Regions from separate parts of the Homo sapiens genome. Here region 1 is linked to region 2. Evidence: fine-mapped expression QTL. Tissue or cell type: whole blood. Region 2 holds a variant in brackets; the other region holds the start of a gene. All regions are shown on one strand. Distances are from middle to middle.

Region 1 (8,000 bases), 22 kb after region 2:
ATAACTCGAGCCCAGGAGGTAGAGGCTGCAGTGAGCTGTGATTGCGCCACTGCACTCCTGCCTGGGAGACAGAGAGAGACCCTGTCTCAAAAAAAAAGAGGCTCTGCTCATCTCACACTGACTCCTGCCACATACCTCACCAAGCCCTGGGCACGCATCTGACCTCTGACCTCAGGGAGGCCATGCTTAGTGCTTAGTGTGAACCCGCTTCTCAGAGGAGATTGAGGCTCAGAGAGGCCATGTCACCTGCTCAAGGTCACAGAGGTACTGAACAGTGCAGCTGGGATTCCAAGCCAAGTCTGTTCCCAGAGCCCAGGTCAAACCACCACACTCACAAGACCAACATCAGGGCTGCCTTCAGGACTTTCAGAATTCTCTCCATTTCCTGAAACCAACTCATCCTAGAACTCTCAAGCCAGGAGCTAGCAGCCCCTTTTGCCGGGGCAGCCACCCTTCCCTCGATCAGCAGCCAGGCCCAGGGAACGCAGGGTGAAATGGACGTCCTCACGCTGGGGTCTACCTATCAGGGAGGGGCCATGGCCCTCAGAAACAAGGTCAGCACCACGAACTTGGCAGCAGAGCCCCAGGAGGGACGCCTCCCCCTCCAGGAACAGAGTGGGGTTCAGGAAAGACCTGAACAGGGACATGGGGGCCAAGGAGGAGGGAAGGGAGGAGACAGCCCTGGGCAAGGCAAGGGGTGGTGGCGCTTGGGCCCATGGTGGGTACGGCAGGAGGACTGCAGGCACCCAGCCCATGCCACGTCCCATCCTGTCCCAGGGATGCCGGCCACAGCGCACCTTCTAACAATCCCACAGGGCAGGGATGTGCTGCACGTGGGCAGCATGCTGCGCTCAGAACTGTCACCATGGAGGCTCTGGGCCTGCAGGGGGTGCCTTCTCAGTCACAGGCACTTCCCTGCGCGTCGCCACGCTCTGCCTCCCTCCACTCAAGTGGGCTCCACTCCACGCCAGGCCTGGTGCACACAGGGGTGCATGAACTCTGTGGAAGGAGGGCCTATGACAGCACCCAGTCTGCCTGGTGTCACCATCCGGTTCTGGACACTCAACATGCAGGACTGAGGGAGAAAGCTGTTTCCATGTCAAACAACAGGGCCCGGGGTTAGGGAAAAGCCCACCACACCTGCGGAGCTCGGCCCGTTGGGGTGAGCCCGCTTCCCCTGGAGTCCACACCTTAGGGCCTTGCCGCTCTGCCCTGGAGAGTCACCACCTTGTTCCATCTCTCCCGCCTTCCTGAAGGAGCTGGCCATGCCAAATGCATGGGGCCTGGCTGCCACATTTGGGCAAATCCATCCCTCTGCCCCAATCATCCCTCTGACCCTCCCTGGAGCAGCGGCCAGGCATGTCCGTGGGGGGACATCTTGTGGACAGGCCTGGGTCTGCAGGCACCCTCAGCCTGGCTACGGCCAGGAACACTTCCAAGGATGGAGTGCACCGCGACCTGCGTGTGACGCAACCTGCATGTGACGTCATAGTCTTTGAGGACAGAGTGCTGTGTTCTGGGCCCAAACTTCCCCAACCAAAGACCTTAGAGGAACCCAATGCCTCCACCTGCCCGAAGGCCAGGGGCGTGGGGCAACTCTGATGACCTCCAGGTAAGCAAGGAGCACGTGCCAGCCTTGACCCAAGAGCTCTGTGTCGGCCCCTTTGCTGCACACCTGCAGGGGCTGCCTCTGGGAACAGCCGCCCAGCAGGCACTTGGACCTGTGGACAGTGGCTCCCTTTGAGAAGGAACCGCAACAAGCAGCCAGTCCTGGGCCCAGAGCCCACAGTCACTCCTGGAGGTGAGGGCTGTGGGAGGCAGGGTCACCCAGGTCCTGTGGTCTCTGGGAGAAGGACACAGGGTGTCGGGCAGCCAGGGGCCATCTGGGCAGGGGGCACACGCTGGACAGGCAGGGCTCATGGTTGGGGTTGCCCTGGGATGGGCTGAGGTGGTTCCCAGAAATGGAATCAAGGCAGGGGGAGCAGTGGAGACCCAGGGTGTGACAGACCCAAAGATACCGAGCTGAGAGTGATGTGGGGAAGGGCGGGGCTCAGCAGGGAAGTGACAGGGAGAGGAGGGGTGCCAGAGACCAGTGGCTGTGGGATGGGAGATGTGGCTGTGCAGGGGCCTCTGGGAACAGGTGTCAGTGACAGTGCCAGGAGGACCCCGGCCCACATGCTGGGTCTGAGGAGGTGGGCATGGACGGTGTGGCCCGGTTCAAAGAATGCGAAGAGATGCACAGGGCTGTCCATGTGTCCCTGTGTCCCGGGCACTGGTACCAGTGGATGGGGGTGGGGGCATGTCCAGAACCCACAGGGCTGGGGGTCTCAGGGGTAATAAGGGCTGAACCCTAAAACCCATTTCAGAGCACTGACAACGTGGAGATCCAGACCCCGTATTCAGGGGCTGGGAGAATTCAGGGGACAATGAACCCTATGTGTGGGGGGTGACAGGGCCTGAGGAAACCCTCAGCCAGCCCAGGAACCCCCAGTTCTGTATCCAGGACTGACAAGGTCCCAGGTGAACCCAACCCCTGTGTCCTGGGCTGATGAGGGCCCAGACTGACCCTGACCCCTGTGTCCTGGGTTGACAGGGGCTCAGGTCACCTGAACCTCTGTCCAGGGCTGACAAGGCCCCAGGTGAACCCAACCCCTTTGTCCTGGCCTCTGTCCAGGGCTGACAAGGCCCCAGGTCACCTGACCCCCTTGTCCTGGGCTGATGAGGCCCCAAGTAATCCTGACCCCTAGTCCTGGGCTGATCCGGCCCCCGTCCCCGTCCCTGTACCCCGCGTCCTGGGCTGACCTGGCCGGGCCCCCACTCACCTCTGGCGCTGCCCATCCAGGCCGAGGCCGGTGGGCACCTGCGTGGGGCTGAGCAGGCCCTGGGGCGCGGGGGTCCTGGCGGGCAGCCCGGTGGGGGGCTCCGGCGGCGGCGGCGCTGGCGGTTCGCGGGCCTCGGCGGGCGGCGGCGGGGGCTTCTCTCCGCCCGGGCCCAGGCTCGGGGGCCGCCCGTCCAGGGAGATGTTGTTGAGGAAGAAAAGCGCGGCCTGGCGGCGCCGCGAGTCCCCGCGCCTCCGCAGCGCCTGCGGCGGGGCCCGAGCGGCCGAGGTCGGCGCGGCGGGTGGCGGGGGCCCGGCGGGGCCGGGGGCCGGGCCCGGGGCTCCACCGGCCGCGGCCGCGGCCATCCTCAGACTGCGCCCGCCGCCGCGAAGCGCCCCACCCCCTGCCCGCGCGCCCGCGCGCCCGCCGCCCATTGGCCGCGGCGCGCCCACATGCAAATGTATCGCCGTCGCGCTCTCCCATTGGCCAGCGAGGTGCCGCGCTCAGGGCGCTCCCCTGGGTCCTAGAGGCGGTCGGACGCAGCAGCAGGGAGTCGGGAGCTGCGCGCCTCCCCGCCGGTTCGAGTCCCCGTCTTGGGACCTGCGGCCGCGGGGCTCTCGCTTTCTGTTCCCTTTGCTGTATGGCGGCCTTCGCGGATGGCCTCCATCGAGCGCACATTTTAAGGCTCCGGACCCAGGGCGGCGTGGGTGAGGCCCCAGCACACTTCCCTGTCCGGAGGTGTGTCTGGGCGGCGCTTCAGCGGGCGCAGGGCGGCCCCTGGAGGAGCCCCACCGCTTCCCGGAAGGGCCCGCGTGCCATCTGGCCTCCTTCATTGACAGAAGGGAACGAGGGTCTGAGTGGAGAAGGCACCTGCTTGGGATCAAAGCCCCAGGCAGAGTCCTGCACTTCCTGCAGTAGCAAAGTGACCTTGAGCCTGCCTTGTGCCCAGGCCTGTTTCCTCTCTGTGCCTGGGTGCCCCTGACTTCAGAACCTGTGAGCCCGTGGCACCGGGATGGTCAGGGCCTGCCTCTGGAGCCCGGGAGCCTGTCTGCAGTCTGGAGGGGAACCCGCTGTATCTTTGTGGAGGGACTCAGGACCTTGCACCCACCTCTGTGTCACCTGCCTGCTCTGTCCAGCTTTCTTTCATGGGTTTACGTATCTTTAAAGAGGGGACAATGATTTCAGCCTCAGGGTACTGTCAGGATGAAACTGGCTCAGTGAGGGGGTCGGGCTGTGGCCGGAGGCCAGGCACATGCAGTGGTCAGTCCGCGAATGCGCTGCAGTACCTCGCACCTGCCCGCATGCGCCCAGCCTCTCCTGTGCTGGGTGCTGGGGACCCGGTGGGACCGACAGGCACAGCGCTGGCCCTAGGAGCACCTGGTGTGTGGGGAGGCAGCATGATGGCCAACAAGGCAGTGGGCGAGTGGGCAAGACAGGGTCTTCATCACCACCCCTAGCATGGGCCCCTGCCCTTCAGGCCCCTACCCACCTCCCGCCTGCCTGCTCCCTCCTGTGGGCCTTCACGGGCCACCATTGGGGCTCACGCAGCATGCAGCACCTCCATTTCCTTTCCCTCCGCCCTTCCAAGTTGGCCTCCAAGGCCTCTGCCAGGCCTAGGGGAAGGTGGGCAGCTGTCCTGTCTAGGAGAACGCGGGGCTGGGTGGCATAGCAGAGGGGTGGCTGCGGATTCTGGATCCACAGAATGGGGTGCTGACTTGTGTGCCTGGGGGCTCCCGTGAGCGGGGAGTGAGTGTGTCCAGCGCTGTAGGGTGCTGAGGCTGGGGCAGGCACACAGTGGGCCCTCCATCCCTGCTGGCTATCACCAGGAGGAGGGGCCTGACAGGGGAGGGTGGGCCATACACCAGCAGCTTGCAGAGAATCTGGTGTCAGATGAGAACAGAAAGGGGCGAGTGAGGGTGGAGGGCAGGACGCAGGAGGCAGGAGGCAGCTGTCCGTGCTGGCTGCAGCGCCGGGTCCTGGGGATCGGCTGTGCAGTAGGGGGGCCCCTAGCCAGTTCTTCTTTGCTGGCGCTAAGCTAGACTTTGAGGGACAAGGAGGAATGCTGAGGAAGGAACGGGGTCTCTTCCTGGGTCTGGTGAACCCCCTTGCTAGGCTCCCGCTGCCAGTCTTCTCCCCTCCCCAGGGTGTCGATGGGTGGCCAAAAGCCAACCTGGCCTGCGGGCAGTGTGTAGGGAACACACGGCTTTTGTTTCGTGTGATTCTGGAGAAATTAAAGCAACCTTTAACACACCTGGACTTCCCTCTTGGGAGTTCAGTCCCTCTGGCCTCTCAGGACAACAGGCAGACATGTCACAGGCTGCAGGTGGGAGGCAGTGCCCCCTGAGTCAGGCCCGCACCCCAGTCTGGCCCAGGCCTCACCCAGCCCAGTCGTTGGCCCGTGTCCTGCCATCCCTGTGATGCGTGGTTTTAAATGCCCAGCTCACCTTGGTGCTTTGGCTGCAGAGGGCCCTGCTCATGAGTTTCGCTCCTTATTTTCTTTGGCTCTCACCCTGAACTCTGAGCAGGTGTCAAGCGCAGGGCTCTGTCTGGATGCTCCTGACTGCAGGCCTGGCCCTTGGGCTGACTTCTTAGTTTCCCCCTTGCCCTGGCACCCCTCCGTGGCCCCCACCTTTCCTTTCTGCCTGATCCTTGTCCATTTTTCTAGAGTTGGGGTCTCAGCAAACTTCCCAGAACATCCTAGCTCCTTGCCTACTTGGCACACTCCTGTTCATCCCTCAGAACCCAAATTTGGGTTGCAGGTGCCACCTGCCTTGACCTCCCAGGGACACCTGCTCTCCTCCCCGTCCCCCAACACTGGCCATGACTTGGTGCCATTGCTCCTTTGCCCACCGCTCCCTGATGCCCAGCAGAGGTGTCAGTGCCCAGTGTCTCTGCCCTGTAAGGGGCAGTTCTCAGACTTCACATTTAGGAGAATTACCTCTGGGAGCTTCTTAAAACACAGACTCCAGGCTCACCTCTAAAGTCCTGGTTCAGTGGATCCGGGGTTGGGCCCAAGAATCTATTTCTTAAGCTCCTCCCACGAAGCTGGGAGGGACTGATACTCATCCTCCCCCGAGGAGCAGACAGCCTTGAGTGCTCCCGGTGGAGTCCTGGCGAGCTGCCCTGTGGCTGCCAGGCCAGGGACTAGTGAGGAGGGGCAGGTGCACACGGCCGCCGCTGTGGCCAGGCACTTCCCCGAGGGTGCCCTGGTCCCTTCCCGCTGCAGACTCTGCAGAGGAGCTGGTTTTATTCTGCCCTCCCGCAAGGGGGTGACCTCCAGTCCCTGGCACAGTCAGTGGTGTCCTGGGGCCCTGCCAGACACATGCACGGTTCTTCAAGTGTTTATTCTCCGTCACTCAGGGGACCCGGTCTTCGAGGGTGCTGCCGCCCACTGTCTCCCTCCACCCTCACTGCCAGACATCTGTTTGCTGTCAGCCCACGAGGGGGCGTCCAAGATTGTGCTTGGAGCTTGGCGGGCAGGGGTGGGGGTCCGAGTGGTCCGTTGCCTCCCAGAGCGTGGGCACTGCCTGGGAACGGCTGCAGTGCACAGCAGGGGTAGGGCTGGGCTGGAGCCTGAGTGATCCCGCCTCCAGTCCCCACACCCCTCAGGGAGCAGGTGCTGGGCTGTGGGAGGGGCCGCAGAGCATTTCCCAGGTGGGTGGAGACGGGGTGAATCGCCAGCCTGAGACCCCTCTCGGTCCTCCAGCCCCTCTTGAAGTGGGCCAGGATGTGCCCGTCACCGGCTCTTCGGGGTTGCCTGCTGGTTGGGTGGTGTGCCCTCTCCAGGCTGTGGTGAGCAGGCAGAGAGCTGCCCTGGGCTCACTGTGGGTTCAGCTGAGGCTGGCTAGGTCTTCTCCCAGGGTTCTGTGCAGGGCTGCCTGCTGGTTGGATGGTGTGCCCTCTCCAGGCCCTGGTGGGCAGGTGGAGGGCTGCCCCGGGCTCGCTGTGGACCCTGGTGCAGGCTGGCTAGGTCTCCTCCCAGGGGCTGCTGTTGGGGGAGGGACTGTGGTCCTCGGCGTCCCTTGGGCTCCCGGGCCCCTCAGTGGCTGTCAGTTTCCTTCTCCCTCTGGATGGCTTTTTGGAGGCTATGGGAAGTGGCCGGAGGTCAGGCCGGAGCTGTGTGCCTTCCTTTGAGGCAACACTGGCTCTCACCTAGGGCCTCCTGGGTCTCCTCTGGGCACGGGGAGCTGGGTGCTTGGGGAAGTTTGCTGGCCACCCTTGTTCCTACAGAAACCGGTGCCCAGAGCAGGGGTAGCCCGATCTGAGGGTGAACCCTGAGAATTGGGTGGAGGGTGGACACTCTCCCCATTGTGTGACCCCGAACACGGCACTGACCCCAGTGGCCCCCTTCCTGCCTTGGAGGGAGCCAGGCCATACTGGCTGGCCTGACACTGGCTGCGGGCCTCAGCAGGCCTGCCCCCGGGCTAGGGCCACATGGGAGGGGCGCCTGGTTCCTGCGATGGTCCGGGGACGGGGATCCTGCCGAGATGCTGGGCTTAGGCCATCTCTGAGGCACAGCAAGCTCAGGCTCTGAGTTGAATGGGTCAGGTTTGAATCCTGACACAAGTCCCAGACCTGTGACCTTGGGCAAGTGACCTCTCCCCTCTCAGCCTCAATTTCTGCACCAGCCAAACAGTGATGATCCTACCTGCTGGGCAGGGTCATAAGGCTCACAGGCAGCCACAGCTGCACCCACTCTTCTGGGGCACTAGGCACGAGGATGCTGGCTCTGGCGCTGAGCTGTGCTCATGCTGGGCAGGGACCTGCTCTCACTGATCGCCACAGCAGTTTCTCAGGAGCCCCTGCCAGCGTCCCTGGTCCCGGCTCAGGTAGGAGCACAAGGGTGTGCTGGCTCACAGACTGCACCCCCCGGGGCCATTTCCACCCACTCAGCAGGAAGTGCCTCAAATAAGGGCCGTGCTGGTCTCTACTGCCGCTCCGGGCAGACGCAGGCCATGGCCACCTGCCGGCAACAATGGCACACAGTGGCGGCACCACCCCGCCTGCTGCCTGCGGGCCTTGCCCGGAGAAAAACCAGGGCCATACAATTAGGTGTTCAAAGTCTCTCATGGGCTCCTGGACCCCAGCTGGAGCTGCCATTGAGCCCAGAGCAGGAAGTGAAAAGTTGTCCCGATACCCTCGGACCAGGGCCGAGGCTCCTGCCGGCATTACTGGGAGGAG
Region 2 (8,000 bases):
ATAGTGAAGATGATGGTGAAGATGATGATGATGGTGATGACAATGGTGGTGACGATGATACTGACAGTGATGATGGTGATAGACAATCATGACAATAATGATAGTGATGATGATGGTGGTGATGATAGTGGTGATGGTGATGATGGTGGTGGTGATGATAGTGATAGTGATGGCGATGGTGGTGATGGTGACAATGATGGTAGTAGCAATGATGATGGTGATGATGGTGAGTGTTAGTATGCTGGGTGCCACACCTTTTTCTGAGCACTGGACAGGCATTGGTTTGTTGAAAGCAGCCAACTGCAGCACGGCTGGGTGGCTCCATGACAGTCGCTTTACTTTACAGCTAGAGGGAGAAGCAGCTAAGGAATTTGTGCCAGGTCACACTGCTAAAGAGGCACAAACCTGGGGTGACACTGGCAGTCAAAGTTATATATAGCAATTGCGGGGCAGAAGCAGGTGTGAGTGTGCTCTCAGGTGGATGCAGGGGCACTCAGAGACCCTGACTGGGATCACCCTGCAAAGGCAGCAACTGCTCTGAGCCGCTGGGGGCTGCTCTAGGATTCTGCAAAAAAGGCTCAGGCCGACGGTGTCTTCGAGTGCTAGGTCCTCCTGCCTCCTCAATCCCTCCTTCACACCTGCCCTCTGGCCCTTTCCCACGAGACCCACTGGAGGCCCAGTAAACAACTTACTGTACAGACAGCGGGTGGAGGGATGGAGGGGAGGGGCTCAGCTCCCTTCAGCCAGCCCCGTCCCTGCTCCAGCACTGCTCTCAGACACCACCTAGTGGCTTCTGGGGACAGTGCTGGTGGCCCCAAGCCTCCTGACAGGTAAGCAGTGCCACCTCCTCTGCAGGCCCCTGGAGGCTCTCCTGATGGAGCGACCCAGACGGCTTCCCTCGGGAGGACACTCCCCTCTCTGTTTTGGGGGTCTGCGATTTTGTACAGAAGGTTTTCTTAAAGAAGTGCTCATCCAGATTTCGTGGGCTCAGGAGATTTAGGTTGCAGAGGTTTCCCTTGAAGAACTCAGCCTTGGAGACCCGGCGCCCAGAGAGCGGACTTCAAGCTTTGTGTGAGTGAGTGCGTCCTAGAGTCTTGCCAAATAGCACCTATAGTCTCTGTAAAATTTTTGAGCTATAATTGATGCAAAATAAAATCCACTTTTTAAAGGATACAATTTGACGTTTTGACTTTTTTTTTTAAGACAGAGTCTTGCTCTGTCGCCCAGGCTGGAGTGCAGTGGCGTGATCTGAGCTCACTGCAAACCTCCGCCTCCCAGGTTCACGCCATTCTCCTGCCTCAGCCTCCTGAGTAGCTGGGACTACAGGAGCCCGCCACCATGCCCGGCTAATTTTTTGTATTTTTAGTAGAGACGGGGTTTCACCATGTTAGCCAGGATGATCTCGATCTCCTGACCTTGTGATCCACCTGCCTTGGCCTCCCAAAGTGCTGGGATTACAGGCATGAGCCACCGCACCTGGCCAATGTTTTGACTTTTATATGCAACTGTGAAACCATTGCCATCATCAAGACAGCATATACCTCCCATCACTCCCCGCGTTTCCTGTGTGTGTCTGTAATCCCATCATCAAGACAGCATATACCTCCCATCACTCCCTGCGTTTCCTGTGTGCGTCTGTAATCCCACTTGCTCACCACCCCACCCCAGGCAACCACCAACATGATTCCTGTCAGTTTTGATTGGTTTGCATTTTCTAGAGTTTATACAAATAAAATCACACAGTATGCTGTCTTTCGAGGGGGACGTACCATTATTTATCCATCTGCCTGTTGGTGTATGTGTGGATTGTTTCCATTTTTGGCTATGACACATAAAGCCTCGATGAACATTTCAGTACCAGTCTCCGAATGGACATATGTTTTCTTTCCTTTTTTTTTTTTTTTTTGAGACGGAGTCTCGCTCTGTCGCCCGGGCTAGAGTGCAGTGGCGAGATCTCGGCTCACTGCAACCTCTGCCCAACGGGTTCAAGTGATTCTCCTGCCTCAGCCTCTCCAGTAGCTGGGATTACAGGCGTGCACCATCAGGCCCAGCTAATTTTTGTATTTTTAGTACAGACAGGGTTTTGCCATGTTGGCCAGGTTGGTCTCCAACTCCTGACCTCAGGTGACCCACCCGCCTTGGCTTCCCAAAGTGCTGGGATTACAGGAGTGAGCCACTGCACCCAGCCTGGATACAGGTCTTTTATCAGATACAGGTTTTGAAAATATTTTCTGCCAGTCTGTGGCTTTCTTTCTTTCCTTCCTTTCTCTCTCTTTTTTTTTCTGGGTCTCCTGTCACCCAGGCTGGAGTTCTGTGGCATGATCATGGCTCATTGTAGCCTCCACCTCCTGGCTCAACTGATCCTCCCACCTCGGCCTCCTGAGCATCTGAGACTACAGACACACACCACTACATCCGGCCAATTTTTAAATTTTTTTGTAGAGGGGTTTCACCATGTTGCCCAGGCTGGCTGGCCTCAGACTCCTGAGGTCAAGCAATTGCCTGCCTCAGCCTCCCACAGTGCTAGGGTTACAGGCATGAGCCATCACTCCTGGCCTCTAATCTGCTTTTTTTGATGTGTCTTTGTCTGATTTGGGTATCAGGATAATACCGGCCTCATAAAATGATTGGAAGCATTCCCTCCTCCTCTATTTTTTGGAATAGTTTCAGTAGGATTGGTATTAGTTCTTTAAAAAATGTTTGGTAGGCCAGGTGTAGTGGCTCACGCCTGTAATCCCAGCACTTTGGGAGGCCAAGGCGGGCAGATCACGAGGTCAGGAGTTAAAGACCAGCCTGGCCAACATGGTGAAACCCCATCTCTACTAAAAATACAAAAATTAGCCAGGCGTGGTAGCAGACCCCTGTAATCCCAGCTACTCTGGAGGCTGAGGCAGGAGAATCGCTTGAACCTGGGAGGTGGAGGTTGCAGTGAGCCAAGACCGCACCACTGCACTCCAGCCTGGGAGACAGAGCAAGACTCCGTCTCAAACAAACAAACAAACAAACAAACAAACAAACAAAAACTAAGAATAGAGCTGCCATAAATAAAGCAATCCCACTGCTGGGCATATACCCAAAAGAAAGGAAATCAGTATATGAAAGAGATACCTGGCCGGGTGTGGTGGCTCATGCCTGTAGTCCCAGCTACTGAGGAGGCTGAGGCAGGAGAATCACTTGAACTCTGGGGGCAGAAGTTGCAGTGAGCCGAGATCGCACCACTGCACTCCAGCCTGGGTGACAGAGCGAGACTTTGTCTCAAAAAAAAAAGAAAGAAAGGAAGAGATACATGTGCTACGATGTTTATCACAGCACTATTATTTGTGGGAGCTAAAAATTAAAACAATTGAATTTGTGGAGACAGACAGTAGAAAGATGGTTACCAGAGGCTGGGAAGGGTAGAACAGTGGGAGGAGGGGGGCAAATGGGGATGGTTAATGGGTATAAAAAGACAGAAAGAATAAGACCTAGTGTTTGATAGCACAACAGGGTGTCTACAGTCAATAATGATTTAATTGCACATTTTAAAATGACTAAAAGAGTATAGTATTGGATTATTTGTAACGCAAAGGATAAATGCTTGAGGTGATGGATGCTCCATATACCCCATGTGATTACTACGCACTGCATGCCGGTATGAAAATATCTCATGTGCCCCATAAATGTACACACCCACTATGTACCCAAAAAATTAAACATAAAAAAACTTTTTTTTTTTGAGACGCAGTCTTGCTCTGTCGCCCAGGCTGGAGTGCAGTGGCGGGATCTCAGCTCACTACAAGCTCCGCCTCCCGGGTTCACGCCATTCTCCTGCCTCAGCCTTCCGAGTAGCTGGGACTACAGGCGCCTGCCACCACGCCCAGCTAATTTTTTGTATTTTTAGTAGAGATGGGGTTTCACCATGTTGGCCAGACGGGTCTCGAACTCCTGACCTCAGGTGATCCACCCACCTCCGCCCAAAGCGCTGGGATTACAGGCCTGAGCCACCGCACCTGGCCAC[T/C]GAGTCTTAAGTTTTCTGAGGCTAGTTCTACATCCTAGGATCATGTCCCCCGCCCAGAGAAGACCCCAACATAGGCCGCGCTGCTCCCTCCGTCTACCGGTTTGGAGCTTCTCCTGGCAACAGGGTTCAGGCTACTAACAAGGCCTTCCTCAAGACCCCACCCATAACCAACGACCATACTTCGTGGGTCCATCTTTGTAACATCTTTACTTCCTTGGAGCAAATTCCCAGGAATGGGTTTTCGGGGTCCAAGGGTATGCACCTCTAGCACTACGACAAACGCGGCCAACACGCTTCAGGGAAACGGTGCCCCAGTTTGCATTCTGCTTCCCCTGCCCTGCCCTGGGGGTCTGACTGGTGAAACATGGGATGGCAGAGTGGTCGGGTGTTTCAGATTCCACGGTGGGCCGGGGTCTTTTCCTACCCTCGGGAGCCGTCTGAATTTCTCCTCTGCCGAGTTCCTGCGGGTGTCCTTCGCCCACCGGCCCGGGGGAGTGAGTAGCAGGCACCAGGTGAGCAGGCCTCCGCTCGCAGCGGCTACGTGCACGGGCAGGAGCACCGCCCCACGCCCCAGGTGGCCGCAGGGTGAGGGGACCGGAGGGCGGGAGGCGCACAATGGGGGGCACGCCCGTATCTCTAGCCCGGCCGGCAGCGGGCAGCGAGGCTCAGTCCTCGCCCCTTCTCCCAGCTGCTATTCGGGGCTCCCGAGGCGCTCAGAGGGGTCGACTGCGTCCGTGGGGCACAACCCAGGGGCCAGGCTAAGACGCCACACACGGCAACGACCCTCAACGACAACGACCCCCACGACGCCCCGCGCCCCAGGGCCAGCAGGCTGGGGTCCGAGAACCTCCTTGCCGGAAGCGGAAGTGCGTCACGGCGACGGCCGGCAAGCACGCACCGCGCAGACTCGCTGTGGTGGCGTGACCCGGAAGCGCTCGCCGAGGCCCCTCCTTGCCCGCCGATATCTCTGCCGGGTGACTAGCTGCTTCCTTTCTCTCTCGCGCGCGGTGTGGTGGCAGCAGGTGTGGCGCGCGGCGCGGGCTTCGGGCTCAGGGCTGGGGCTGGGGCGGGAGTGGGGGCTTGGACGCGGGGGACGGGGTGCGGGGTGCTGGGTGCGGCTGGGGCCGTGACCCTAGGGGCCGGTTTGCGCCGGGAGCCGGGGCACGGTTCCGGCCGTACTCACGGCGCCGCGCGGTGACTCCCCAGGCGCAGCCCAGCCTCGAAATGCAGAACGACGCCGGCGAGTTCGTGGACCTGTACGTGCCGCGGAAATGGTAAGCGCCCCCCACATGCCTCTCTTCCGTCCTTACCTAACCACCACGTCCCCTCGCCTGCCCTTGTTCCCCCACACCCCTCCCGTCCTTACCTCGTCACGTCCCTAACTTGTCCTGCCCCCGACGTTACTCTTTTCCATTCATATACCCCCAACCTCCCTCGTCCCCTCTTTCATTCTTACCGCCCAAGTCCCCTCTGCTCACTGCGCCCTTTCTCCACAGCTCCGCTAGCAATCGCATCATCGGTGCCAAGGACCACGCATCCATCCAGATGAACGTGGCCGAGGTGAGCTGGGAGCCCGGGAGGCGGGAAGGTTGTGATATATGTGCGGGAAAGGCAGGCTGTCCCATTGTGGAGGAGCCCCTGGGGTGAAGGTACAGGCAGAGGCTGGCTTTGAGGATTGGTGTTTCCCAAACCTGGGGGAGTGGTTTGTGACCCTTCTTCTCTTTCTAGGTTGACAAGGTCACAGGCAGGTTTAATGGCCAGTTTAAAACTTATGCTATCTGCGGGGCCATTCGTAGGATGGTGAGTGTTTCCCTGGGCTTTGCTCATCACTTCGGGACATCGTGGACTTTACCGTGCGCATTGGAGTGTGTGATGGTGCCTGAGTAGATCTGCTGGCAGAGTAGTTTGAGCCAGCTGGACTGGGCTGGCCGCCTGCCGCTTCTTGAGGGTGGAAGAGGGGTGCTCTGAGAAGACACTCAGGCAGCAGACTCTGCCTCTCACTAGGAGGTGCCCCCCCGACCCCGCTCCACCATAGTCAGGCTGCAGGCTGCCCCGGGAGAGGTGGCTCCCCTTCTGCGCCTGTCTCCATTCGCTCAGCGGGGGAGAGACGTGGGCTGGTGGCACAGCTGACCTTCTGCCATCTCAGGCAGCCGGAGTGGAAATATTCTTAGTGTGCTTTTTTTTTTTTCTTAAGGGTGAGTCAGATGATTCCATTCTCCGATTGGCCAAGGCCGATGGCATCGTCTCAAAGTAAGGTTGGGGGCTCACATTTGGGCAGAGTGAGTGGACTAGGACTGCTCCAGAGGCGTGGTCTTAACGTTGTCCTTTTCCCCTGGTTCTAGGAACTTTTGACTGGAGAGAATCACAGATGTGGAATATTTGTCATAAATAAATAATGAAAACCTACCTGTGCAGGTTCATTCTGTGTCTGTAGGCCCAGGGTTGAGGTTTTGCTGTCAGTGGGTGACGGGTGGGGTAGGGTACCCAGTTAGTTGAAAGGAGACAAGCTGTGAAACATATTGCAAAACTGAGGTTTAAAGGACAAATACATTATCCATTTAAAAACAGATATCTAAGACAAAATAACTCAAACATTCTGAGGTCTGATACTTGCTTATGCACACTGACATCCACAACTGCTACCGGTGCGGAAGCAACGCCAGGCCTGGTTCTGTATAGTCACAGCCGAGCTGAACACCTTAGCTCCGACACCTGGATGTGTTCTAGAGAATGACAGGCTGAGACTGTAGTTTGGTTTAACTACTGGCTTTGTTGCAATAATCCTCGAATACCACACAGTGGCAGCTTTTGGCATCATAAAAATGGGACATAACTGAAGGGAAGGCTTCACACATCACAAAGACCGGGTTGGTTAATGACTAAATCTCACTACATGAATACGCAATCTTAAATTACTGTGCTTATCAGCCATTTCTCGCATTCATGTGTAGGAAAAACCATGGAGACGTGTCCCTGGAGGGCAGGTTGTAAACTGCAACAGTTACTAGGAAGTCAGTCCTTTACATGCTCGTAACATGGGCGAGCTCTTGAGATGGGATCTGGGTGGCAGGAGAGGTTGCTTTTCAGAGGAAAGCTGCCTGGGACCCAGCATGGTGGAGCAGCTTTGAAGCTGAGTCCCCTCTGGGTGCATACTGGGTTCCAGGGGATGATCCTTGGCTTGAGGGCAGGCTGCTTGATGGAAGGGGACGCTCCACAATAAGAAAGAACAAAGGCTTTGGTTTGTCCTCATCCTCCAGTCTGTCCCACACACCTGCCATCTCTGGGTTTTGGTGGCCCCAGTGAGTGGCTGTGGAAAAGGAGGAGGGCCAGGTGGGTGCTGGCAGCTGTCCTGCACCACTGCTGGGGTCGGGTGGAGTTGCTGGTGGAGTTCTGTGATAGCAGAATTGGCATCTCCTTTCTGCGGAAGCACCAGTCTGCACAGAAAGCATAGGATGTATTGTATTAATGGGCTAGAGACAAAGTCGTCCCAGAGCCCCTCCAGGGCCAGGCAGGTTTATAAGGTAGTGGTAGGAAAAAGCTTGGTGGCTGAGGCAGTGGCCAGTTTTGAGACCAGCTGACCCCCCATGAAGAAAAACTCAGCAGTCCTTGGTTATTCAGTGTTTTTGATGAGGCAGCTAGCTGGAGCGCTGGACCATGCAGAATTTGTTGCAAGAACTTCAGACAGACGTGGAAAAACTAGAGATGGGGCCCTGCTGGCCTGCACAGAAGGGACAACGACCACCATTTGGGGTCCTTTTAGCATGGTGGGCTGCCCTGGCCGAGGTGGCCAAGATGGCACCTGTTTCCTGCCTCAGAAGAAAAGGCACTGACGCACTGACCCTTTGAGGTTGTGTGGGGTGTGGTCAGTGCCCTCCTGCCTGAGGGTCAAGTGTGTTTTCAAGTCAACTTCAGCAGACCTCATTTAACCATTTTTTGTTCCCTTAAAAAAAAAAGACCCAAAAAACCAAATCCCAATAAATATGTTATTTTTCTCCATCACAAT

The links. PIP is the estimated chance that this variant, and not a neighbour inherited with it, causes the effect.
Region 1: CABLES2 starts here. The variant in region 2 is fine-mapped to the expression of CABLES2 in whole blood (TOPMed, PIP above 0.99).

What each region holds. Positions count from the first base shown.
Region 1 is chr20:62,404,093-62,412,092 of GRCh38, forward strand. CABLES2 (Cdk5 and Abl enzyme substrate 2) reads right to left here and starts at 3,193. Exons shown (of 10, transcript NM_031215.3): 1 at 2,823-3,193. The coding sequence starts at 3,184. RBBP8NL (RBBP8 N-terminal like) reads right to left here. Exons shown (of 14, transcript NM_080833.3): 14 at 6,145-6,904. The coding sequence ends at 6,786. LOC105372709 (a long non-coding RNA gene) reads right to left here and starts at 2,802. Exons shown (of 2, transcript XR_936967.3): 1 at 798-2,802. RefSeq lists a silencer at 3,110-3,359 and an enhancer at 6,592-6,651.
Region 2 is chr20:62,382,118-62,390,117 of GRCh38, forward strand. It overlaps RPS21 (ribosomal protein S21), which reads left to right and starts at 4,986. Exons shown (of 6, transcript NM_001024.4): 1 at 4,986-5,019; 2 at 5,204-5,271; 3 at 5,494-5,557; 4 at 5,726-5,797; 5 at 6,192-6,247; 6 at 6,340-6,403. The coding sequence starts at 5,222. The coding sequence ends at 6,349. CABLES2 (Cdk5 and Abl enzyme substrate 2) reads right to left here. Exons shown (of 10, transcript NM_031215.3): 10 at 6,517-8,000. It overlaps RPS21-DT (RPS21 divergent transcript), which reads right to left and starts at 4,872. Exons shown (of 1, transcript NR_186459.1): 1 at 4,186-4,872. RefSeq lists enhancers at 900-1,079, 4,124-4,173, 4,452-5,143, 5,144-5,835 and silencers at 4,524-4,643, 5,074-5,263. The variant T/C (reference allele first, on the strand shown) is at 3,998.